Linked DNA regions of Homo sapiens: regions 1, 2, 3, 5 and 6 are each reported to be linked to region 4. Evidence: microRNA targets listed by miRTarBase, many of them from high-throughput screens and not tested one by one. Region 4 holds a microRNA gene; each other region holds the end of a gene's coding sequence. Distances are between the middles of the regions.
The links. Region 4 holds the annotated microRNA hsa-miR-3918 (ACAGGGCCGCAGAUGGAGACU, at 2,693-2,713, shown strand). A microRNA usually pairs through its seed, bases 2 to 8, with sites in the 3' UTR of a target mRNA and lowers its output. Matches are read on the target gene's strand: a 7mer-m8 pairs with bases 2 to 8, a 7mer-A1 pairs with bases 2 to 7 and ends in A, and an 8mer does both.

Region 1 (4,085 bases), not on the chromosome of region 4:
GTAGTCCCAGCTACTAGGGAGGCTGAGGCAAGAGAATGGCGTGAACCCAGGAGGCGGAGCTTGCAGTGAGCCGAGATTGCACCACTGCACTCCAGCCTGGGCTACAGAGCGAGACTCCGTCTCGGAAAAAAAAAAAAAAAAAGGTCACTGGAAGACTGGGTGTGGTGGCTTATGCCTGTAATCCCAGCATTTTGGGAGGCTAAGGCAGGAGGATCACTTGAGGCCAGGAGTTTGAGACCAGCCTAACAGCAAGACCCTGCCTCTTAAAAAAAATAATAAAAAAATAAGCTGGGTGTAGTGGCTCATGCTTGTAGTTCCAGCTATTCAGGAGGCTGAGGTGAGAGGATCATTTGAGCCCAGGAGTTGGAGGCTGCAGTGATCGTGCCACTGCACTCCAGCCTTGGTGACAGAGCAAGAGACCCTGTCTCAAAGAAAAAGACAGATAAGTCCTTGGGAGTCTCAGACGGAGGACATACATAGAGAATGAACAAGAAGCAATAACCAAAGAGATAATGGCTGAAAATTTTCCATAAAGACTTCCACAGACTTCAACTCCCCAGATTGAAGGAACAAACTGAAGTCAGAGTAGGGTAAATAAAAATAAATATATATCTGGATATATCCCATTGAAACCACAGAATATAAAAAGCAAATCTTATAAATAACTGGAGAGAAAAGTCAGATTCACGGTGTTCTGTCAAAGTGTTCATGTAGACTAAGGGTGGGGAAACTTTCTGTAAAGGGCTGGAGAATAATTATTTTCAGCTTTGAGGCTTTGGTCTCTGTTGCAGCTGCTCACGCAACTCTGCTGTTGAAGTTTGTAGTGCAAAGTCAAGTCAACAAATGAGTGTGGCTATATCAGAAATTTTAATAAATAACAGTAAAACTTCATTTATTGACATGGAAATTTGAATTTTATATAATTTTATGTCATAAAATCTTATTATTCTTTGACTTTTCTCCAACCATTACAAAATATAAAAACCACTCTGTGGACTATACCTTGCTGATTCCTAACGCAGACTTCTAATGATGGGAATCACCACTTCTGAAATTGCTTTCTGTTAAGACTGTAGAATGAAGTCGGGCGAGGTGGCTCAGGGGTTGGAGACCAGCCTGGCCAACATAGTGAAACCCTGTCTCTACTAAAAATACAAAGATTAGCTGGGCATGGTGGCATGTGCCTGTAGTCGCAGCTACTGAGAAGGCTGAGGCATGAGAATCGCTTAAACCGGGAGGCAGAGGATGCAGTGAGCCGAGATCGGGCCACTGCACTCCAGCCTGGGAGACAGTGAGACTCGTCTCAAAAAAAAAACAAAAAAAAAAAAAACAAGGAGTAAAAAGTTGTTAGCTGCGATTCTGTGTTAATTGCCTGTTTGTTCATATTCAATGGTTTTTGTCATTTTTCCTTTTTCCTATGTTTGTTCTGATTATATTTATTGAAATGTAATTTTATGTCTAATTAATCTGATAAACTGTGGACTTGTATTCTGTATTTTTTTTTTTTTTGGAGACAGAGTCTCGCTCTGTCGCTCAGGCTGGAGTGTAGTGGCGTGATCTCGGCTCACTGCAACCTCTGCCTCCCGGGTTCAAGCGATTCTCCTGCCTCAGCCTCCTGAGTAGCTGGGATTACAGGTGCGCACCACCATGCCCGGTAATTTTTTTGTATTTTTAATAGAAATGGGATTTCACCCTGTTGGCCAGGCTGGTCTCGAACTCCTGACCTCATGATTCACCTGCCTCGGCCTCCCAAAGTGCTGGGATTGCAGGCATGAGCCACCACGCCCAGCCTCTGTATGTTTTTTATTTCATTTTTCTAGTTTTTAAAATTTTTATGTTATTTATTTATTTATTTTTTAAATAGGTCTCAGTCTGTCTTCCAGGCTGGAGTGCAGTGGTGCAATCATGACTCCACTGCAGCCTCCCAGGCTCCGTGATCCTCCCACTCCAGCCTCGCAAGTGGGTGGGACTACAGGCGCCCCACCATGCCTGGCTAAGTTTTTGTATTTTTTGTAGAGATGGGGTTTTCCCATGTTTCCCAGGTTGGTCTCGAACTCCTGGGCTCAAGTGATCCTCCCACCGTGGCCTCTCAAAGTGCTGGGATTACAGGCATGAGGCACGGCACCCGGCTAGTTCTTCTTATGAAAGTACTGGACCGTGATGGATTAGAAATGAAAACTGGTCCTTTACCATAGCTAGTTGGGGGACCACTGGTTTAGGAGTTCCTGCATCCAATGGGTGCCCCCTAAGTGCCTTGAATGGGGGATGAGGGTGGGAAGTCTGCGGGGCCTGGAAAGGTGGGAGCGAGAGCAAGAGTCTGGGTGTCCATTCCTCTAACTCAGAATCCTGAAGGCCCCGCTGTGTTGGGTGCTGCAGACAGTGGTTTGTGGGACCCGTGTTTTGGTGGGGGAGATAGACAGTACGGGCAGGTGCACCAACAGGGCCTCCCAACCCTTGCTCACTCAGCCAGCCTCTTGGTTGGCCGGTAGGGGAGACCAGCTCAGTGCCGGTTTCCTTCTCCCTCCCCGACAGTGTCATGGGAAGAGCCCTGGGCTACGTTCCTAATTCTACCTACCACCTGCTGGCTGTCCTTGGGTGAGTCAGTCCTTATCTGTAAAATGGGACGGAGGTAGTGAAGATTACAAGATATAACCCGTGTTCAGTGCTTAGCGCAGGGCCTAGTATATTTTCTTTTCTTTTTTTTTTTTTAAATAGAGATGGGTTCTCGCCATGTTGTCCAGGTTGGTCGCGAACTCCTGGGCTCAAGCGATCCTCCCACCTTGGCCTCTCAAAGTGCTAGGATTACAGGCTTGAGCCACCGTGCCCGGCCATCCTGGGGTCTTTCAACAAATTGATAACTGGTAGCTACTATGATCTCAGATTTCAGGTTTCTCAAAGATTCTGTTTCTTGTTTCGTAAGATTCTGAAATGCTGATGTTCCAAAATTCTGAGATGGTTTGTTTCTAACGTTCTGCATTTCTAAGTCTTTGACCACTGAGGGTGTCTGTCAGGCGCGGCTTCCTATGCCCTCTGCCCCCAGGTTCTCCCAACCTCTGGGACTGGGAAGGAGGGCAGTGGGTGGAGGGGGCTGGGCCATTGCCTTGACATGGCCCACATTCAGGGCTGGCTGTGGCAGCCCAGGGCCCCAGAGCCAGGCTGGAACTAGGATACCAGCCTCCAGGTCCCAGGCCTGCGTCATCTCTGCGTGCCCTCGGCCAGGGCCACCAGACAGAGACGGGCTGGTTGAGTCATCCAAGGGCTGGGGGTGGGGCAGGCTGTTCCGGCCGGCTCCTGGCTGGCAAGGCAGGAGTCCTACGCCCAGCTCTGCCCCTAACATGCCCCGTGCCCTTGGGCAAGCCTCAGCATCAGGGCTGCCACGCGTTCGGTGGTGCTCGAAGCCCTTCAGCGTCAGGGTCAGTCCTTGGGAGGGGGGCTGTGGTCAGGCTGGTGGGCTGGGCTAGCAGTGGCAGGACAGGAGGAGAGCAATTGCCTCTGGTGGAATTAATTACTCTTTTATTAGCACAAAATAACAGCAACCTAGCAGCCGCACGGCCCGAGAATAAGTTAAGGCACAGAGCAGGCGACGGGCGGCTTTCCCAGGGCCAGGCCTGCATGCCCCGAACTTCCTGAGCAAACTCCCTAGGGGCTGGGGTTTCGAGGGTCCTGGAGGGCCTCTTCCCTTGAGATGAGGGGAACGGAACAGGGCAAGAGGGGCGCCCCCATGGGCGCAAGGGGTCCACGCTGCGCCGCGATCACTTCTCGAAGTAGGGCAGGTAGAAGAACTGGAAGCCCCGGTGGCCCTTGACCGCGCAGTAGATGAAGATCACGTGATAGACTGCGGGGCGGGGCCTGTCAGCGCAGAAGCCCCGCCCCTCCCCGCAACACCGCCCCCAGTGCCGCCCCACAGCCCCCGCCCCTTCCGCCCCGGTGCCCGCTCGCACCTCCAGGCACCAACAACAGGAAGCCCGGCACGAAGAAGATGGCGCTGGAGACACCTGCGGGAGGGACCAGAGCCCGGTCAGGGCGAGGGGGCGGAGGCTTCGAGGCCTTCCGGGCTGCCGCTGACTGCCCGGGCAAGCCTCACT
Region 2 (4,085 bases), not on the chromosome of region 4:
AGCCATGCGGACTTCCCCAAACCCAGCTATTTCCTGTCCCTCGGGTGGCCCCCTCCCAGCTGCCTGGCCACAGGGCACAATCCCACTACACAGCTCAGCCTGTTCTTCGGCTCCAGGCCAGAGGTGGGAGTCGGGGAAGGCGGGAAGGACGGGAGAGTCGCGCCGGGAAGTTCAGGGCCTCCTGGTCCTTGTGACACACGCAGCCATGGCCCTTCAATCTCCTTGTGATAGGATGCAAGGCTGGGCCAATGTCTCTCCTCCCGTGACCTCTGCTCCCAATCCACACTTGCCGGGGCTTCTCAGCGGGCCCTCTTCCCATGGGTCTTTGCAAGAAGCAACAACTGACACAGACTGGGCCCCAGCCCGTCTAAAAGCCTCCACTCGGAGTAGAAAAAAAAGGTGCTTGGTCTCATCTCTGACCACTGTGTGGCCTCAGGAAAGTCACTTGATGTCTCTGGGCCTCTGCCCTCAAGTGTGAACAGGAGCTCGCTTTCCATTTCTGTGAATTACACTGCACCAACTGCTTGGGGGTCTGATAAGGAGCAAATAACATCCATGAAGAAATCTGCCATTCCACAAAAAAACTGACACCACCAGAAGGTTGACAATGCCTCTCAAACTCATCCCCGTCCCTGCCGCCCCATAGGATGACTTCCCCAGCCTTTGTAGGGGTCCCTGCATTTGGGCTCTTCCTTCCTAAAACCCAAACCTTGTAACTCCTTGGCCCAAAATCCTTCAAAGACACCTGTCTCAGGATTAGTCCATGTTCCTCGGTGTGACATTCAAGGCTCTGAGGGCTCTTTTGGTATTGGTGACAGATCCCAATTCAAACAGCCCTGGTCTCTTTATTAACTTTACTTTCAGGTAAGTCCTCAACAGCTCAGCCACACCGGGGAGAAAAGATAAGAGATGGAGAAACAGAGAGACATTATTAAAGAGTTGTAGTCCTGGATCCTGCCATACCTGAAGCCAAAAATCCCTGGATTTTTTATTTGTATGAGAGCCAAGAAACATCGTGAACCACCTTCTGGTTTCTCATAATAAACTTGGCTCATAAGGCTTCTGTTACTTGCAACCATGTCCTTCCTGTAAATTCCCTTCTTGGCTGAACTTAGCCAGGGTGAGCTTGCACCTAAAGAGCCCCACTGTGTGCAAACACTCTTCCTGACCCAGCCCCACAGCGGGCCGACCTCTTCTCCCTCCCCTCCCCACTTGCAGCCACGCTGAGCAGCTCGCCCCAGCTCCTCTCCCCAATGCCATAGAGTCTTTGCGTGTCCTGCTACCTAGACCTAGAGCACCCTTCCCATTCTGCTTACTGCTGCCTTCTCATCCTTCAGACTCCACTTGGTGACAGCCTCCAAGAGGCTTTCTCTGGCCCTCAGGCCACGTCTGAGGTCCCCTAGGCTTTCCCTATCGTGGCAGCCCTTTTGCAGATCTGTCCCTCCTACCGCAGACTGGGGGGAACTGGAGGCGAGTCTCATCTGTTGAGGTCTTCCCCAGTGTCCAGAGCAGGACCCAGCCCCAGGGGAGTGGAGTGCACGCCTGATTAGGGAGACATCAGGGTGCATCATCTTGGGCTGTGGTTCATGATCAGACAGCATTGGGTCAGGACCACCCCTCGCTCAGCATGGCCCATGGGAGGAGTTTCTGGATGGAGCAACTAGGTATGTGTGAGTGTTTACATGGGTGTGTGGGGGTGGGCGTGTGTGGAGGGGTGTGGGGGGTGTGAGTGTGTGGGTATATGGGGGGTGTGTGGGTGTGTAGGCGGTGGGAGTGAGTGTGTGGAGGGGTGTGGGGAGGGTGTGAGTGTGTGGGTATGTGGGGGGAGTGTGGGTGTTTGGGTGTATTTGTGGGTGTGTGGGGGTGGGTGTGAGTGTGTGGAGGGGTGTGGGTGTAGGGGGTGTGGGTGAGTCCTGGGGTGATGGAGGTAGAAGGCTGGTCTCCACCCTCCCTACACTGTATTTCCAGAAACACATCAGCCAGACAGAAGCTTGTTGCTGCTTTATTGAAACTTCCTCCCTGTCGCACACAAAGCAATTACACAAGGGGGTATTGCCAGGGAGCTCTTGCAGAGCCTTCTCCCTCTGTACCCCCCGACAGTCCCCAGAGACCCTGCCTCCGTGGCCTCCACCTCTGGGTCAGCTCCCTGGAGGACCCCGACACACAGGGAAGCAGGCACAGGAGGGCTGTTGGGGCCAAACCTCCCCAGCTGCCACAACCGCCATGACCCCAGTGGCAGGGTCAGTGCCCACAAGGGGGTTGCCTGCTTTGACTGAACTAACCTGTGGGTTTAGTCCAACGAACAGATGTGCCTGATTTCAGGGCTGAATTTTTGCTTGACCACAAGCCTCGGGCAGAACAGATTCGCCTATGACTGAATCGACTGAATGGATGGCCAGCGACAGCCTGGCCTGGGAATGGACTGGCAGCTCATCACTAAAATGACTCCTTTCATGGAATCCACTGTTATGCAGCCACACTGACCACAGAGCAACTGAATAGGTGAGCATTGGATTGTTGATGACAACTCTTCAGCAGAACAATTGTGTGTTTGAAGGGACTGTTTTATGATGAAATAACTGTTATTTCCTGGAGCTAATTGTTGAATGACAGTTTGTCAACTGTTTAAATGAATTTCATTTGAATTAACAATTATACAGCCACTCAGAGGTCCTACATTCGCCAGAGTTGGCATCCAGTTGATGGGTTCATTTGAATTAAATGGTTTGGAGGCTAACGTGATTTTTTAAATTGAATTTCATCACTATTCTGTGTATTCTATTTATCACTATTCTAAATGACTCATGGTTGGCTAATTGATTATCATGTAAGCAAGCTATTTGAAGAAATTGATTACATATATTTATATATAGGGGGTAACTAATTAATGATTACTTGATTAAATTGCTATGTGAACTGACAACTATTTATAAATCAATGCAATAGACTGTTGTTTGACCAAATTATTTTACTGAACTGACAAGTGGGTTTTTGATTTGTCAGTTGCTTGGCTGAACTGATCAAGTCGATAGTTGCTTGACAAACTCACCAACTTTAGAATGGCCAATCGTCTAAACAAGTGTCAGAGCTGATTGAAATAAACCAAGCATTGTTGGGCTGAATTATGGAGAGACCCGAGGAGTGACTCAGCCTAAAGCGTTGACCCAGTTGTGAGCAGCTCACAGGCCCTGCAGGAGGAGCAGGCCAGCGAGGGAGACACAAGCAGATTGTCCTGCCAGGGAGGGGCGGGAGGGCCCACCCAGGCCACAGGGGCCACCAAAGCAAAAAAGCAGATTATGAGGCAGCTCCACCCCTCCCAGCACTGGGGCTGGGGCCTGGCGAGGGTCACACCTCTGAGTATGGGGGTGGTGCTGGGCCCCCCTCTGGGGTCTTCGATGGCAAAGACAGGGCTTCCTCGTAGGACGGCAGGACCACCTGGGAGAGACAGAGAGATGAGGGCTGAGTATGGTCAAGAATGACCTGCAATTCCAACCTGGGGTCATGGGACCCAAACCCCCACCTCTGGCAAAATGATGATGATAATGACTGGCAGGTCTTGGATATTTGCTATGTGCTAGACATTGCCTGCATGAGATAGGTGCAGTTCCCAGCCCTGTAGTGGACATATTTGCCTTTGCCTATTCAGCATCAAGTCCCCCTTATTTTGAAAACAGTGCACCATTTTCCTTGGGAAAACATTCTCAGTCCATATACCTTCAGAAGAACTGGTCCCATCCCTCAGATCCAGCGAGGTGGCTGGACTTGGCCACTCAAAGTAGAATTCCATCCCCCTGGCTATAGTCCTTGGTTTGGGGATAGGCACGTGGCCCAAGTTGGTCCAATCAGACATACTCCTGGGACCTTCTTTTTCTGTTGGGATTTCTGAGAGGGTGGGATATCTGCCTAGGGGTTTTGGCAGCCTTTTTGCCACCACAAGGGATGGGCTTCCGGAAAATGAAGCCAACATCAAGGAAAGTAGAGTCAAGAGTTGGAGAGGACGAGATCATATCCTGATGTCAGGACTCAGCCAGGCCCAAGCCAGACCTACATTTGGCTGCTAAGTTCTGTGAGCTAGTAAATTCCTG
Region 3 (4,085 bases), not on the chromosome of region 4:
CAAGAAAAAGCGCCAGATACGTAATTGTATGCAGGATGCCATCCTGTCTACCTTAACACAACGTCACGCCCACGAATGGTTCTGAAACGCACAGGAAAAGTTCTGGGAAGGGCGCTGCTGTGGGGTGGGGCTGGGAGATGGGGTGGCTGCGGGAGACCCGCTTCGTTCTTTCCGGTTAGGCATCTTAAACGCTGCTGATGGGAACGGTCTCACGAGGTTCCAGCAGCCTGAACACTACAACGAAGGCGGCGCGGGCGCTGCACCCGCCAGGCCCTCCCTACCTGCTGCGGACGTCCTTGCTGCGGATGGGCGCCAGGAGGCTGAAGGAGGATTTGGCCGAGCGAAGGGAACAGTCGTCGCAGGCCAGGGGGCTCCGCGGCCGGCCGGGGCCCAGGCTGCTGTGGGCCCGCACCAGGAGCGGCTGCGCGCGGAGCTTGTAGTCTGCAAGATCCGAGTCGACCTTGTTTGCTGTCCTCAGGGAGTCGGAGGCGATGTCCAGGCTCAGGGCAGGCGGTGGGCGCGGGGGCAGCAGGCTGGGCAGCCTGGGCGAGCTCCCCGCCACGGCGGCGTCTCTGTGCGGGAGGTTCGGGGAGCTGCTGGCCACCCCAGAGAGAGGGTTACCCCCCGAGGACGGGCTCCCTCTCTCACTGCTCAGGACCCCGCGGGACTTGGGGATTTCCTGCAAGGAGGTGCTCAGGCAGGGCGGGGAGCAGCTGTGGGCGGGGGCCCCGGGGCCCTCGCTCTGCACTGAGCCCCTGGAGGGACTGGTCCCATTCCGGGCTTCCAGGTCCTCCTGGCTGCCTCGAAAACGCCTCCTCCTCCAGCCCTTGTCGTCCAGGGACAGGGCTCGCTCCAGTCGAGGCCTGGCGGGGGGCCGCGGGGCGATGGGTGCTGCTCGGGCTGGCGGGTCCTCGCCGCTGGGCGTGGCCGGAGTGCTGCAGGCAAGCGCGGGGCTCTCGGAGCCCGGAGCATCGGGTGGGGACCCCGCGCGCTGGGCCGGCGGAGCGCCGGGAAGCTGTCCTTGGAGCGTCCTCCCTTCCGGCGGCTGCGGGGCCGGCTCGGAGGGCCGCAGATTCTCCGCCTTGGACGGCATGGACGGTCTCTCCCGGGGCAGGCCTCGGCGCGAGGCCGCAGGCAGCGCGAGGGGTCACGGGTGCCGGGTCCGGGGTCGCCGGCGCAGCGAGGAGCAGAAACGCCGCTGCGGCTCCCGCTTGGGCCGGGGATGGTCGCGGAGGGGCGGGGGCGGCTGCCGCATGGCCCGGGCCCCGAGTCCCGCCAGCCCCTCGGGGCTCCCAGACGCCGTTCCCAGGGCGGTCCGCAGGCAAGGCCTGGGGGAACAGGCGGCTGGGCGCCTGTCGCGGGGGAGGTTCGACCCCGACGGGGACGCCGCTCGGGGAGAGGGGTGGGAAGCGGGCACCCCTGGCTGGGCTCGCAGACTCCGAAGTCGACCCGGTACTCGCGGAGGCCCGGCCGCCCAGAAGCGGAGTCAGCCCGGCCGGGACCCAGCAACCGCCGCCGCGGGGCCGCGCCCGGTCCCCGCCCCGCGCCCCGGCCCCGCCCACAGCGGCCCCTGGCGGCCGGAGGACTGCGCCGCACCGGACCCGGACGGGTCTCCCACGCCCCTCCCAACCCGGCAGCCCCGCAGTCCGGCAGGTCCCAGCGAGGCAGGTGCAGGTCCCCGGAGAGGACCTGGGTGCGGTCCAGGACAGCGCCGAGGCCTGCGGACACCTGCACTCACTCGCTTCCAGCAAACCAAAGGGAACCACAGGTGAAGGTGCTTGAAGGAGCGCAAAATATTTTATTCAACAATTTGCAATGTAACAATTCTCATTTAGGAAAAATAGCCGCTCCCGCCTGGAGGAAGCTTCTTGAATCAAAAGTCGTGGCAGTCGACCCCAGAACAGCGGGCAGAGCCGACCGGAAGAGGTCCCAGGATTCACACGAGCTGACCGAGGGACAGAGAGGGCTGCCCCGTCACAGGGACTGGCCTTTCTCCAAGTGACAAGGACAAATGGATCCAGCGGGACACGCCTGTGGAACATTTTGGAAAACATCCTGGGTGGTCTGGGCTAAATGATCAAGTGAAACAGAAAGCCAGGAAGGATCTGTGCTAATTCCACATTCTACAATTTCTACACTTAAATTTAAAACACCAAACAGTTTGTATTCCTCCAGCAGAACCTACAGAAATTATCTACTGATTTTTATTAGTATTTAAATCTTTTCTTCAGTCTCTTTAGACTTGACAAGAATACGAAGAGTTTCAGAACAGTCAGAGAAGCCTTAAAGCTTTGCATCAGTGAGAGGAGGCCCGTCTCTGAGTTGAACAGGGTTGAGTCCACCAGGAGCTACTCAAAGTCTCAGTGTGGCAAAACTCGGGGCAGAAATACTAAGTTCCAGAGCTGCTGTCAAGAAACTGTGTTAAGATACTCTCCCCAAGTGCTACCAACCTCTGAACCAACGTCCCCCAGGGGAGAAAGTGGGTCATGTGGATTGTACCACGAAAAGTGCTCACGGAAAGTGCAGCCTTTTAGAGAAGTGCATCCAGCTTCCTTAACAGTGAGTCTAACCGTGCTCCTACACACGAAATGAAGCCCAAATCAAACATCACACGGTCAGTTTTCAACCTGGATGACCACCCTGAGCCATCATGTCAGACAGCCGGCTCTCTGGGGCTCCTTCCCAGTGACTGGGCCACACGGTGGGCAGTCCCCAGCGCTTTGGGTACACAAAATCACCCATGGTCCTCATCAGGCCACAGAAAGTAAAGTGAGGCTGGAAGCGTCTTTGCAACAGGAAAGAAATTCACTGCAGTAACTAAGGCCTCTCTCAAAAACCGTGAACTAATGCCGAAGGAACCCCACGGCTCCTCGGAGGCGCTGATTGAGAACACAGCGCCCTCCACTCATTCAGCCAGGTTCAAACACGGCGAGGGCCCAGATGGTGCAGAGCAGGGGTTGGGGTCTGCCTCAGTCACCCTCTCTTTGCTCCCAGCACCTTAAAGGAAGCGCGGGACTCACTGGGCAGTGACTCACAGCTGGGCTTGGAGAGGCCCTGGTTACTACCGACCATGTGGCTCTCCTGTGGCAGAGACAGCTCCGGCTTCAATGAATGAACATTCTTAAATGACCAGGAATACTATATCCTTAAATCATCCTAAATGACTAAGAAAGTCACATCATTCTTTTCGGCAAACAATTCTGAGTCAAAGATTCAGTCTTTCCATCCAGAATCTGAAAGGATGGTGGAATTAATTTTCAAAATAATTCATTACGATGGGCGGTGAGGAGGGAGGCACAGTGTGCGACCAGCTCTGAGTCACTGCTGTGTCTCCCTGGGGGCGGGACGGAGATCGCGGAGGTCGGTCGGGTTCTTCGGGGAGAACAGCAGCGTCAGGGCTCCAAGTGCAAGTTCACAGCAGGGCAAGCCTAGTTCAGCACCAGGTGCTTCCTCTGGCCAATCCTCCCTAGCCTTGAGCTCCCGGAGGTGGCGCAGGCCTGGAATGAAATCAACAGCATGACCTCTGCATGCCTGCCCCCAGGGTGAGCAGTGCTCGGCTGCAGCGTGGCAGGGGCTGGTCCACATAATGAACCACACGGGCCATTGGCGCTGACAAGCTGAAGGCTTCGTTTTTGTTTCCAAAAGCCTCTGGAAACCGACAAGTCAGTGCCAAGTCCTGGGCTCCCTTGAAAGCACTGTATCCTTAACCATCAATGTTTACTGTGAGGGTGGCCAGGAGGTGCCGTGGTTTCATCAGGGCCATGAGACCTGGAGCTGCTCTGCAGAGCCAGCCTGGCTGTCCAGAGTCCAGGGACAAGTGGTGGCCAGGCCTGGCCTACTGCATGGGACGCGGGGACCTCAGTTGCAGACAGCTGGCCAATGCAGGCATCCACTCTTGCTCCCTCGCAAAGCCTCATGGAGGGGAAAGCCAAGGAATTTTTGTAAAGGCACTAACCACATGGTAAAGGGAGCAGGACAATACCAAAATCGACTAGTCTGGATGCTGAAAAGCAGGTGACAGCCAGGGGCCAGCTTGGGGGCAGTGGTCCTGGGAGCCTCGGCCTCGTTTGTAGAGGACCAGGGCA
Region 4 (4,085 bases):
TGTACGAGCCGGTGAGCTACCATGTCCAGGAGAGCTTGCAGGATGAGGGCGCAGAGCCCACGGGCTACAGCGCGGAGCTGTCTAGTGAGGGCATCCGGGATGACCGCAATGAGGAGAAGCGCATCACTGAGGCAGAGAAGAACGAGCGTGTGCAGCGGCAGCTGCTGGTGAGGCCCAAGGGGCTCTGTCTCCAGGGAGCCTGCCTCGCTTTTGGAGCAGACAGGCTTGGGGAGGGCAGTGATGTGAGCCAGCCCCACCCAGCACCCCTCTTGCCCTTCCTGTTTTCCTAGGGGACGGGCCGGGCCATATGGGGAGGAAGGGACTAGACCAATGCTGCTTAATGTTACAGACGCTGAGCAGCGAGCTGTCCCAGGCCCGAGATGAGAATAAGAGGACCCACAATGACATCATCCACAACGAGAACATGAGGCAAGGCCGGGACAAGTACAAGACGCTGCGGCAGATCCGGCAGGGCAACACCAAGCAGCGCATCGACGAGTTCGAGGCCCTGTAACAGCCAGGCCAGGACCAAGGGCAGAGGGGTGCTCATAGCGGGCGCTGCCAGCCCCGCCACGCTTGTGTCTTTAGTGCTCCAAGTCTAGGAACTCCCTCAGATCCCAGTTCCTTTAGAAAGCAGTTACCCAACAGAAACATTCTGGGCTGGGAACCAGGGAGGCGCCCTGGTTTGTTTTCCCCAGTTGTAATAGTGCCAAGCAGGCCTGATTCTCGCGATTATTCTCGAATCACCTCCTGTGTTGTGCTGGGAGCAGGACTGATTGAATTACGGAAAATGCCTGTAAAGTCTGAGTAAGAAACTTCATGCTGGCCTGTGTGATACAAGAGTCAGCATCATTAAAGGAAACGTGGCAGGACTTCCATCTGTGCCATACTTGTTCTGTATTCGAAATGAGCTCAAATTGATTTTTTAATTTCTATGAAGGATCCATCTTTGTATATTTACATGCTTAGAGGGGTGAAAATTATTTTGGAAATTGAGTCTGAAGCACTCTCGCACACACAGTGATTCCCTCCTCCCGTCACTCCACGCAGCTGGCAGAGAGCACAGTGATCACCAGCGTGAGTGGTGGAGGAGGACACTTGGATTTTTTTTTTTGTTTTTTTTTTTTTTGCTTAACAGTTTTAGAATACATTGTACTTATACACCTTATTAATGATCAGCTATATACTATTTATATACAAGTGATAATACAGATTTGTAACATTAGTTTTAAAAAGGGAAAGTTTTGTTCTGTATATTTTGTTACCTTTTACAGAATAAAAGAATTACATATGAAAAACCCTCTAAACCATGGCACTTGATGTGATGTGGCAGGAGGGCAGTGGTGGAGCTGGACCTGCCTGCTGCAGTCACGTGTAAACAGGATTATTATTAGTGTTTTATGCATGTAATGGACTATGCACACTTTTAATTTTGTCAGATTCACACATGCCACTATGAGCTTTCAGACTCCAGCTGTGAAGAGACTCTGTTTGCTTGTGTTTGTTTGTTTGCAGTCTCTCTCTGCCATGGCCTTGGCAGGCTGCTGGAAGGCAGCTTGTGGAGGCCGTTGGTTCCGCCCACTCATTCCTTCTCGTGCACTGCTTTCTCCTTCACAGCTAAGATGCCATGTGCAGGTGGATTCCATGCCGCAGACATGAAATAAAAGCTTTGCAAAGGCACGAAGCAGCACGGGTGTGTGCTTGTGTGTGGGGTGGGAGGGCTACCGCCGACTCGTCTGGGCTCTATGCTGTCCTCTGGCCAGGTTTCGTGAGGGGCCGTGGTGTCCCTGGGGGTACACTGGTAAGTTGGAGCTGACCAACCCAAGACATGGTGCTCCATGGGTCACCTAACCTCCTCGAGATGGTTTCCACAGGAGAGAAAGACTGCTCCAACACTCATCAGGCTCCTCTAAAATGCTCCTCATAGCCGGGCACAGTGGCTCACACCTGTAATCCCAGCACTTTGGGAGGCCGAGGTGGTCGGATCACGAGGTCAGGAGATCGAGACCATCCTGGCCAACATGGTGAAACCCCATCTTTACTAAAAATACGAAAATTAGCCTGGTGTGGTGGTGCATACCTATAATCCCAGCTACTTGGGAGGCTGGGGCAGGAGAATTGCTAGAACCCGGGAGGCGGAGCTTGCAGCAAGCCAAGATCGTGCCACTGCACTCCAGCCTGGTGACGGGGAGACTCCGTCTCAAAAAATAAAGTGCTTCTCACAGCGAAGCTGTGACTCCCCCCCCCGCCTTGAGACAGGGTCTTACTTTGGCCCAGGCTGGAGCACAGTTGCATGATCGGGGCTTACTGCAGCCTCAACCTCCTGGGCTCAATCCTCCCGGTTCAGCCTCCTGAGTAACTGGGACTACAGGTGTGTACCACCACACCTGGATAATTTTTTGGTTTTTTTGTAGACAGGGTATCTATGTTGCCTGGGCTGATCTCACACTTCTGAGCTCAAGCCATCCACTGCAGCCTCCCAAAGTTGCTGGGATTACAGGGGGGAGTTACCATGCCCACCAGCCGGCCTTTTACCTCATTTGATAAGCACTGGAGGACATGGGTAACAACGTTTATTAAAATCTGGCCATTTTCTACATCTCAAAGAGGAGATAACCCACCAGAGGCTTAGGTAACATAATTGTGTTTAACGTAAATATACACAGATACCAATAGGCGGTTAAGCCATGGGACAGGGCCGCAGATGGAGACTGCTCAAGGTCAAAGGGGTCTCCAGCTGGGACCCTGCACCTGGTTCGTAGCCCCTCTGCAGACGCACAGTGCCTCACGCCTGCTGCAACCTGGAACCTTGAGGCCTTCATGTCAGTGCAGGACAAGAGTCATGTCTGTCCATAGATTGGGGCTGGAAAGGACTTTCTGCCACTGGAGCTTCGATAGTGAGCATGCATCCCCGCCAACAGCTGTGTCTCCCTCTGTAAGAGAGGAAGACAATTTAGCCATGGTCGGGGAGGGCACCACTTCATCCCCTCTCATCCCTTTAAAAATGATGACCAGCCAGAAGTTTTTCACCTCAAGTCCACATTAAAAGGCCAACCACTGATGACAGACGCCGCCACCACCACTCCCACCCCAACAAAGCTGGTGTTGAGACTGGGATTCACGCAGGCATCCTCTGCTCTGCGAGGCTCTAACAGCCTGGAGTTCTGTAGTTTGAAAGTGAGGCGAGGACTCTGGTTTGGTGGGCTGGGTCTTCACCAAGGGAGTGGATAGTTGCACACCAGCATGGCTAGCTGGGTGGGGCCGTCTCAGACTGGGGGCTGGGCTTGCCCATGGGAAGGGATTCTTAGAGGAAGACAGTATGCTTTGGACAAAATATCTTTGAAAAGCAATGGAGCAGTGAAGCTTATTTCTCTTCAGTCACTGGTTCTCAGTTGGAGGTCCTTGGAGATGTGTGCAGGTGTTTTTGGTTGTCATCATGTCAGGGACACTGCTGGCAGCCAGAAGCAGTGCCAGGCACAGAACCTCACAGCAGAGGGCTGTCCACCTACCATGCCGGCGGTGCCCTGCCGAGCGGCTCTGGACAGCACTGCTGTTCTGACCACTTTTGATGAAGTACTTTCTGAATTGCCATTTGTTTAAGAAGATATTTTCATTTAAGAAAATAATCCTTTTATGATTGACGCCAGAAACAAAAGCAAATACTGTACCTAGCCCGTTTGGAGGCCTATAATTTTTGTTTCTTTAGCAGATCTAAATCTGATTTAAATTGTCAAAATACTTGGCTGTATTATGGCTCAGCTGTAGAGTAAAAACTAGACTTAGGCATTTCCAATTAAGGCAGGCTAGGCAATTTCAAAACCAGTTAAGTCACTGCCCTGGTGGAAGCATTTTCTTTGCACGGTACCCATTAGGATAATCACAAAGTATAAACGTTTGGGCTCAATGTCTCAGACTTACTTGAACCAAGTCTGGTTCCTCCAAGCAAGCGGTCGTTCATTCCAAAGAGGGCCTGATCCCAGACAGTTAACTCCAAGCTTGACTGCCTCAGCTGAGCTGGGGTTACGCCACTGAAGACAAATGAGTGTTTCCACTGGGGGCAAGCCTGCTTCCTCAGGACTGGCGAC
Region 5 (4,085 bases), 130 Mb from region 4:
TGAGTGAGTGCTGCATAGGCGTCCTGGACGGGTCTTTGTCTTTGGCGCGCAGACCGGTTCGTGAGACGCAAGAAGAAGGCAGCAGCAGCTGCCGGAGGAAAAAAGCGGTCCTACACCAAGGACTACACCGAGGGATGGGTGGAGTTCCGTGACAAGCGCATAGCCAAGCGCGTGGCGGCCAGTCTACACAACACGCCTATGGGTGCCCGCAGGCGCAGCCCCTTCCGTTATGATCTTTGGAACCTCAAGGTGAGAAGATAGATCTTTCTGCCACACCTCTCACCCTCCCTTCTCCCCAACTCTGGCCCAAGTATCCCCATGGCCTCTCATTGGCCTTGTCCCCTTGTCTCATCTTTCTCCCTAATCTGCACTATCCTGATCTTTTCTTCTTTTCTGCCCACAGTACTTGCACCGTTTCACCTGGTCCCACCTCAGCGAGCACCTCGCCTTTGAGCGCCAGGTGCGCAGGCAGCGCTTGAGAGCGGAGGTTGCTCAAGCCAAGCGTGAGACCGACTTCTATCTTCAAAGTGTGGAACGGGGACAACGCTTTCTTGCGGCCGATGGGGACCCTGCTCGCCCAGATGGCTCCTGGACATTTGCCCAGCGTCCTACTGAGCAGGAACTGAGGGCCCGTAAAGCAGCACGGCCAGGGGGACGTGAACGGGCTCGCCTGGCAACTGCCCAGGACAAGGCCCGCTCCAACAAAGGGCTCCTGGCCAGGATCTTTGGAGCCCCGCCACCCTCAGAGAGCATGGAGGGACCTTCCCTTGTCAGGGACTCCTGAGGGCCTGGGTGGCCCCTTCCATTTCCTGGCCCTGCTCTGCTTCCTGTCTACCTCATACTAGAATGATCGTGACTACCCGGGCAGACATTTTACTGTGTTTCTCAGACCAAGTGTCTACTGATGGCCCAAACATGGAGTTTTGTGGGCTTCCACTGTCCCCACTCCGAACTCCTGTATGTGCCTGGCTGAGTCACCTAATTCATACTGTCATACTAGCATAATTATGACTATTGCATATGCTTGTTTTGTTTGACTCTTGGCTGCCTACGTCTGTAGGGTCCCCTGAAAATCCCACTTCCTGCCCCCAGAAAGGGCCTTTATTTCCAACTAGGAGGATAATGCCTAGTCCAGGCAATCTTTCTCTGTTTAGCAGTCACAGGTGAGGGTGGTATTAGCATCTTTTTTATGTAGAAAAAATTGAGTTAATGGGGTGGACTGGGTTGGGAAGAAATACATTTCCTAATGTATTTATAGAAAATAAAAATATTTTTATGTGCCTTTTTATTTTTGTTGGTGGGGAGGTCATTGGACAAGTTCCAACTTTCATCTTGTGTTCCCTTCACCTTCATATCCTGATCTTAGAGCCCCCCTCCCCCTGCCACCCACCTTACTGTTTAACCTGGATTTTTTTTTCTATTTAATTTTTGTCTAATATCTTAGCCCAGTTTATCAATCAGTTATCTTAAGTCAGCATTTTCTAAGCCATTGTTTGAGGAAACAGTGACAATAGGTAATAACACATCTTAGTATTAAGAGTTTTACAGGCCACTAGTATAAGATAGGCATCGTGGTAGATGCATATAAAGGGTGGAATGGGAGCCATGGCAGGTCATAGAGTCCTCTCAATGGGAACCTGATTGATGATCACAGTCTTCAGTGGTGAGTCAGTCCTCACCAAGTTTTCCAGATCATTCCTACAAAGTAAACTGGGAGAATAATAAGTCTGAAAGAGTGTGGAGTGCTCCCACAATTACAAAGAATGCTTCCTGGGTGGAGTGTTGAGTTGGAACCATTGTAAAGGTGGGCAAAGCCTAGTAGAGAACCAGTGCACCTCAGGTGCACTTACATATGGTGGGGCTGAGGCAAAGCAGCCCTGTAGGCTTCAAAGAATCAGTGTAAGCCACTAAAAGGAACTGAAAACCTAGGTGTCACAATAAACAGTCTACACAGTCTCACGTAGACCAAAATTCTGATCATTTTCCAGGCTGTTGCATGAAGTGATAGAGTATGATTATAATTTCTGTTTGCTTGTGCTGTTTGTTTTTGTTTTTCATCTGTCAATGTGATGATCTGTGTTTTATAGGGTAGAGTGGATTTGTCTACTTTGGCTGTAAAATACCCTAATCACATTATGATCTTGACAGGTGCACTTTACTGGGGAGAATAAAAAGGACCATACGGTAAAGCTGGTATAACATTTCTCACAACCCACATACCTCTTATACTTGGCACACAAACTACGTTTCCATTTAGAAACTTTCGTCTTGTTTCTGTTTTTAATTCTTGTGGGTTTGTTTCATGTGAATTGTTTCCTCAGATCATTGATGTCTTAAAGTGAAACAGAAAAATCCAGAATCAGAATTTGACAGGCTGGCATATTCATTTATTCAGAATTCCAAGTGCCCATTGCTACTTCTGCTAGATAAAGAGATACCAAGGTGAAGAAGAAACTTTCCCTCTAGTTGCTAACAGCTTAGAAAGTACAGTAGACATACTGGGGTTTTATTTAAGACTTTCTTGAATGAAGAAATAAATTGCATTCCCACGGTGGACAGCGTTAGATAACAGTATGTTCAAGGGCTGGTATTTCAGGGTCCATCTCCAAAACAGTTCTGTACAAAGAGCTCACACCTGCGGCCAGGCAAGCTAAGTAAGTCACAGGTGGAGTGAGGAATGAGAATAAATGGGTGGAAGAAAATATCCTAGGAACTTTCATCTTGACTTTAAGCCCATTGAGTGTAGGAAAATAATTTTTTACATCCACAATTTTGTTTCTATTTAAACAGCACTTGTTTTTTTATATGAAGTAACTCATTTAATCCACAACTATATAATATTGTTATCCCCCCATTAAAACTGAGCTCAGAGAGATGACTCAATTTGCCTCTTAATATTTTATCCTTTGTTCCTCACCTTTTCCCCAGCTTTTCCCAGTGTGCATATGGTGAATGCTTATTACAGGAAATTCATGAGAAATGCACATGTTATAGACTAGAGAATGAAGTGTACCTGCCAATATGAGTGGATTTATTTTATCTAGCACCAAGAGTAGCAAACTGAGTAATAATTCTCAGTCATGATCCTGTGGTTGTAGTGTATACTCTGATTCAACTTAGTTTCACTCCTGACTGAGAAGCTGGGACTCTGCATTTGATGGCAATGGAGTGGGCTGATTTCTTTCCAAATAAGTTGAGGTGGGACTCCTGGTAGAGTAAGAGGGCTTTAATAGGGTATGTCTGGGTGCCTAAAAGCTTTCTCTCTCTTTTTTTTTTTCAGAGACAGGGTCTCTCTATGTTGCTCAGGCTGGCCTTGAGCTCCTGGGCTCAAGCGATCCTCCCGCCTCAGCCTCCCAAAGTACTGGGATTACAGGCATGAGCCACCACGCCCTGCCCTAAAAATGTTCAAAAGTCGTATTTACAGCTACTCTCAAATTCCTTTTTTTTTGTGATTCCTTATAAAACCTTTCTCCCTGCATTTATCTTGTTATATTACAGTAGAATTATGAGGGGAAAATCCTTTGGTGGAAGTCTAGGGACATGCTCAGTTCCCAGGAGGCTTAATGTGAATTTTAGTGAATTGCTTAAGATCCAGTATTAGATCTGCTGGTCCCTGCCCACCCCCCTTTTATTTTTTGAGACAGGGTCTCACTTTGTCACCCAGGCTGGAGTGTAGTGGCATGATCCTGTCTCACTGTAGCCTCCATCTTCTGGGCTCAAGCAATCCTCCCACCTCAGTTTCCTGAGTAGCTGGGACCGCAGGCATGCACCATCACGCCCAGCTAATTTTTAAAATATTTTTTGTAGAGATGAGGTCTCACTGTGTTGCCCAGGCTGCTCTCGAACTCCCGTTCTCAAGCGATCCACCCACCTTGGCCTCCCAAAGTGCTGAGATTACAGCCACGGTGCTCGGCTCCCATCTTGAAATCAATACCTGACAGAATATTAAAGAAAATGAAAATTGGCCGGGTGTGGTGGCTGACGCCTGTAATCCCAACACTTTGGGAGGCCAAGCCTAGTGGATCACTTGAGGTCAGGAGTTCGAGACCAGCCTGGGCAACACGGTGAAACCCTGTCTCTACTAA
Region 6 (4,085 bases), not on the chromosome of region 4:
CCGTTCTTCCCTCTCCCCCTCCATCTCTCTTGCTCCCTTCCCATACCAGCATCCTTTGTCATCCCAGCTGTCTTCACCTGAGTCCAGTTGGTCCTTACCACCCCCATTCTCCTCTCTCCCACCCAGACTGCCCGGTTCCTGGGCCTGACCTGGAGATCAATCCCACTCTGGAGTCTCTGTGTCTGAGCATGACAGAACACGCCTTGGGTGGTGAGCATTTCCTCTTTCCCTGACCCAGCTCCCACCTACCCAGCGTCTCTGCCTCTGAACTGAGCAACTCAGAGTCATCCTGAGGGGTCCCCAGGGGAGGCCAGACTCCAGGGAGGGCCTGACTGGGATGACAGGCTACCTGAGTGCCTTTTCTTGGGCCTCCCTCCAGCTCCTGATCTTCCTCCCTTCCTCCCTTTCTTACCACAGATGGGACAGACAAAACCTCCACCATCTGACGGGACCCACAGCCCAGCGCACCCATAGGCTCCCTGGGCGGCGGGCGGGGGCCAACCCCCAACGGGCTTCTCCGCGACAGCGAGAGGGTGGGCTGGCTCAGCTATATATTCTAATATTTTTCTACTCTCTTACCCTCTTAACTTTTGTTTAACATTGGCACATGCCTTGCTCACTCCCAGGCCCGTCGAGGGATCTCTGCTGAGGCCCGGGGAGTTGGGGGCAGCCAGGATAAAGGGGGCAGGGACTGGCCAGACTGCCTGCCTCTCTCCTTTCCTTCCTCATCCCCACCTGGTCCCATCCCACCCCTGCCTCCTCCAGACCGCTGACCACCTGCCTCTCCCCAAGGGAGCAGACTCCCCAGAGACAAACTGACCACTACCTTGTGGAGCCTGCTCAGAAACATTTGACATTTGGGGTGACGCGCAGGGCAGAGAACCTGCCCTCCAGAATGTTATTGAGAGGAGCTGGGGAGAAGGAAGGGGAGCAAGGAGAGGAAGCTCTCTCTCCTCTCCCTGCTTCCCCTTCACCATTCCCCACATTCTGCAAGGACAGGAGCCACCTTCCTCTCTCTCACCTCCCCTGGCCCTGTTCACCAGAGGTTCTCTATGATTAATTTCTTAGGCCTATTTAAGATACATATTTATATAGTTCTTAACGGTTTTTCTCTGATCATTTCCTCTCATTTTTAGAATCCCCAGGTCTCTCTCAGCCAAGACAGTGGCAGGGAGAGCCTGAACTTTATGAGGGGAGAGGGCAGAGCCCCCTCCTCCAGACCCTCAAGCTCTAACCCATTTTCCTCCAGCCCTGGCTACCCGGATGAAGAGGTTGGAGGTGGGCAGCCAGGGTAGCCAGTGAGGTCAGGAAGTCTGTTGCCTTAACGTCCCCTTCCCCACGAACACACACCCTTCTCCGCTCCCAGGTCTGGTTGGTGAGACTTGGGAGTCAGGAATAAGGGAAAGGGGATTGTTTGGTTTTTGGGTTTTTCCCTAAGCCCCTCCCTTTTCTTTCAGCCTTTTTCCTTCCCCCATTATGTCATGACCTCACTTAAGTGGAACACTATATCATAACCCAGAGATTCGTCCCAGCCCCAGAGTCCGACAGACTGTCTGGTCCCTATTCCTAATGAGGGGTTGTGTTGGGGCCCAGGTGGAGGGAGGGGATTTGGGGGTTCAGACTGCGGGGAAGCCAGGGTCTCCCTCTTCAACGCCCTCCTCCCCCTCAACCCACCTTCCCAACTGGGACATTCTCAAGCTTTTCACACCGAAAAGGAAAAAAAATGTTATTTTTAGATACATTTTATGAATAACTTTTGTTATGAATATGGCTGGTAACCATTGTGTATGTTATTAAAGATACAAAATGTTGGGAAAAAAACAAAAAAAACAAAAAAAAAAAAAATTTTAAAACCACCACCCTCCCTGCACTATCACCCCATTCCCCAGACCTTCTTGCCCCCGCCCTCCTGGTCTGTGGACTTCCCTCTGCTCTGAGCCCAGGGAGGGGGAAGAAGCCAGGGGGTAGGGTGGCCCTGGGAACCTGGCTCTGGGTCCCCACTTCCTCTCCCAGTGCCGGGCTGGGTGGGGTGTCAGGTTTATTTATGTACCTCTTGCACACTCATCAACCTATGCAAGTCCCCCACCCCGGCCCTCCATGTTTCTGTGCCTTTGCTCATCCCCTCAATCTCCCAGGGCTTCTCCAGTCCCCCTCCCACTAGCTGCAGGAAGTGGGATGGATGGGCCACCTCGTTTGGAATCAGCAGGGTGTCCCTCTCATGGGACCCTCCCCTCTCCCCAGCCTGTCCTGTCTTGTTCACTCTCCATCAGGGTGAGCTGACTGTGCCTGGCACTGGGAGGTGGTGAGGGACACCGTCTCACACACACAGGGAGGCAAGAGCTGCCCCCCACCCCACCTGACAGCAGAGTGTGCAGGACGCAGGCGGCCCCACTCTGATGGGCAGGACCCTGACCCTCTCCCGCTCCAGCCCCCTCCCCAGGCCCTCCTCCATGATTTCACCCTCCCTACCCACTTCTGTCCCCGGCCCCACTGGCAGAATCAGCTTTGAGTAACTGTACAGTTTTTCTCGCTGTTGGAGAAGACTTATTTGTTGGAGTTTCACTTGTTTAATGGTCTGGGCTTATTTTGGAAAAAAAAAAAACAAACAAAAAAAACGAATTCTGACCTTCGTTGTGCTACATTTTGTGGGAAACCATTGGCCCTGCCTCTGGCCTGTGTTTCTAAGCCTCAAGCCAAGATCCTTGAGCACCTGGGGGTTGCGGGAGGTATGTGCTGGGCTGAATGACATCATAGGGGCTGGGAGGGGAAGTAAAGAGAAGTTGACTTTATTAACAGCAAAGGTTTGGGGGTGGGGAACAAACAAGTGAAAGGCTCACAAACAGACCACTAGAAAAGTGCTTTGCTGCTCACAATAATGGTGTCTGAACCAGCCCTGAATGCCCTGGGACTCAGTCACTGTCACTATCAGCTTCACTGGAATCAGAAGCTGCAGCTTCACTGCCATCCTCCTGGGCCGAGTGCTCGCTGCCACTGGGGAAGGGACTGGCGCTGCGGCTGTGGCTCCGGCTCCGCTGGCCACCCCCATTGCTGCCGCTGTCTGAATCATTGTCACTGCCACCTTGGGCCTGTCCTCTGTCCTCATCATCAGAGTCGGCATCGTCCTCAGAATCAGCATCACTGCCAAAGATCTCCTCTTTGTCACGGGCAGCCCGGGCCTCATCCTCGCTGCTCTCGTCCTCACCACTGCCACTCTTGTCACTGGCCTCGTCCCTGTCACCTTCCTCCCGTTCACTCTCGCTGCCCGAGTGCTCATCTTCACTGCCCTCCTTCTCACTGCTGCTGCCCTTCTCCTGCTCCTCATCTGGAAGGGAGTGGAGAGAGATGAAACCCACTTTTCCACCCTCCCAGGGCTCCCAGAGTCTGGCCTGTCCAGATTTACCTGAGCCCCCAGCTTCTTTCTCTTCTGTCTCCATCTCCTCTTCCTCTTCCTCCTCCGGTTCGTGGTTTTCTAGCTGGGCCTTCCGTGCCTCCTGGAAGCAGCAAGATTGGAATGAGGGGAAGGAGGGTGTTCTGCTGGGTTTTTGTCCCCCTCCTCACCTACAACCACCACCCTCCCTGCCATGGGTGCCCTGAGCCAGTGGTGCTTGTTACCTGAGCTTCCAGTTCCTTCTCATTCATGTCCCGATGTTTGACCACAAGCAGGGCGTTGGTGCCTGACTGAACCCCAGCCTTGGCCCGGCGCTTACTAAGGCGGACCCTGCAGGGGGTGAATTTGGGAGAGAGAAGTGGAAGATGCAGTTAAAGACACACCTCCCACTTCCCCGCCCCCCAGTGAGGGGTCTGGTCTGACTTGGTTCCCCATCAATACTTAGAGTAAATGGGAATAAATACAGATTGAATAAGGGCAGCTAAGCTCAAGGTATTGAGGGCAGGGGAAAGGAAGGATGGCTCCCATGGCACCAGTTTGGTTGCCCTACACTGTGTGTGTGTGTTATACGGTGTATTTACATAAATACGGGCATGGGCCATTTAACAGGGACACATTCTGAGATATACATCATGTGAACATCATACAGTACTCTTACACAAACGTACATAGTATAGCCTACTACATACCTAGGCTG

Region 1: the mRNA of TMEM134 is a reported target of hsa-miR-3918. Seed matches in the 3' UTR shown: 7mer-m8 at 3,598-3,604, 7mer-A1 at 3,366-3,372, 7mer-m8 at 3,217-3,223, 7mer-m8 at 3,139-3,145, 7mer-A1 at 3,118-3,124, 7mer-m8 at 2,673-2,679 and 1 more.
Region 2: miRTarBase lists LAPTM5 as a target of hsa-miR-3918. Seed matches in the 3' UTR shown: 7mer-A1 at 2,319-2,325.
Region 3: miRTarBase lists SEC16A as a target of hsa-miR-3918. Seed matches in the 3' UTR shown: 7mer-A1 at 3,393-3,399.
Region 5: the mRNA of ABT1 is a reported target of hsa-miR-3918. Seed matches in the 3' UTR shown: 7mer-m8 at 812-818.
Region 6: the mRNA of SAMD4B is a reported target of hsa-miR-3918. Seed matches in the 3' UTR shown: 7mer-m8 at 1,029-1,035 and 7mer-m8 at 1,972-1,978.

The regions. Positions count from the first base shown.
Region 1 is chr11:67,460,862-67,464,946 of GRCh38, forward strand. TMEM134 (transmembrane protein 134) reads right to left here. Exons shown (of 7, transcript NM_025124.4): 6 at 3,942-3,995; 7 at 849-3,835. The coding sequence ends at 3,753. CABP4 (calcium binding protein 4) reads left to right here. Exons shown (of 6, transcript NM_145200.5): 6 at 1-891. Among named protein-coding and RNA genes, the nearest start is that of TMEM134, 6.3 kb to the right of the region's middle.
Region 2 is chr1:30,730,483-30,734,567 of GRCh38, forward strand. LAPTM5 (lysosomal protein transmembrane 5) reads right to left here. Exons shown (of 8, transcript NM_006762.3): 8 at 1,987-3,435. The coding sequence ends at 3,346. Among named protein-coding and RNA genes, the nearest start is that of MIR4420, 6.7 kb to the right of the region's middle. RefSeq lists enhancers at 11-120, 1,790-2,295, 2,296-2,801, 2,842-3,343.
Region 3 is chr9:136,438,327-136,442,411 of GRCh38, forward strand. SEC16A (SEC16 homolog A, endoplasmic reticulum export factor) reads right to left here. Exons shown (of 32, transcript NM_014866.2): 32 at 1,779-3,497. The coding sequence ends at 3,429. INPP5E (inositol polyphosphate-5-phosphatase E) reads right to left here and starts at 1,519. Exons shown (of 10, transcript NM_019892.6): 1 at 282-1,519. The coding sequence starts at 1,093. RefSeq lists enhancers at 1-356, 298-407, 357-991, 992-1,625 and silencers at 698-1,187, 1,248-1,427, 1,478-1,677.
Region 4 is chr6:158,763,343-158,767,427 of GRCh38, reverse strand. It overlaps MIR3918 (microRNA 3918), which reads left to right and starts at 2,675; the gene lies at 2,675-2,767. It overlaps SYTL3 (synaptotagmin like 3), which reads right to left. Exons shown (of 18, transcript NM_001242394.2): 17 at 3,919-4,085; 18 at 2,557-2,933. The coding sequence ends at 2,824. It overlaps EZR (ezrin), which reads left to right. Exons shown (of 14, transcript NM_001111077.2): 13 at 1-167; 14 at 350-1,680. The coding sequence ends at 514.
Region 5 is chr6:26,597,862-26,601,946 of GRCh38, forward strand. It overlaps ABT1 (activator of basal transcription 1), which reads left to right. Exons shown (of 3, transcript NM_013375.4): 2 at 53-249; 3 at 404-2,878. The coding sequence ends at 784. Among named protein-coding and RNA genes, the nearest start is that of ABT1, 3.0 kb to the left of the region's middle.
Region 6 is chr19:39,383,082-39,387,166 of GRCh38, forward strand. It overlaps SAMD4B (sterile alpha motif domain containing 4B), which reads left to right. Exons shown (of 14, transcript NM_001384574.2): 13 at 127-210; 14 at 418-2,619. The coding sequence ends at 446. It overlaps PAF1 (PAF1 component of Paf1/RNA polymerase II complex), which reads right to left. Exons shown (of 14, transcript NM_019088.4): 12 at 3,613-3,718; 13 at 3,401-3,491; 14 at 2,548-3,322. The coding sequence ends at 2,910. Among named protein-coding and RNA genes, the nearest start is that of PAF1, 6.0 kb to the right of the region's middle.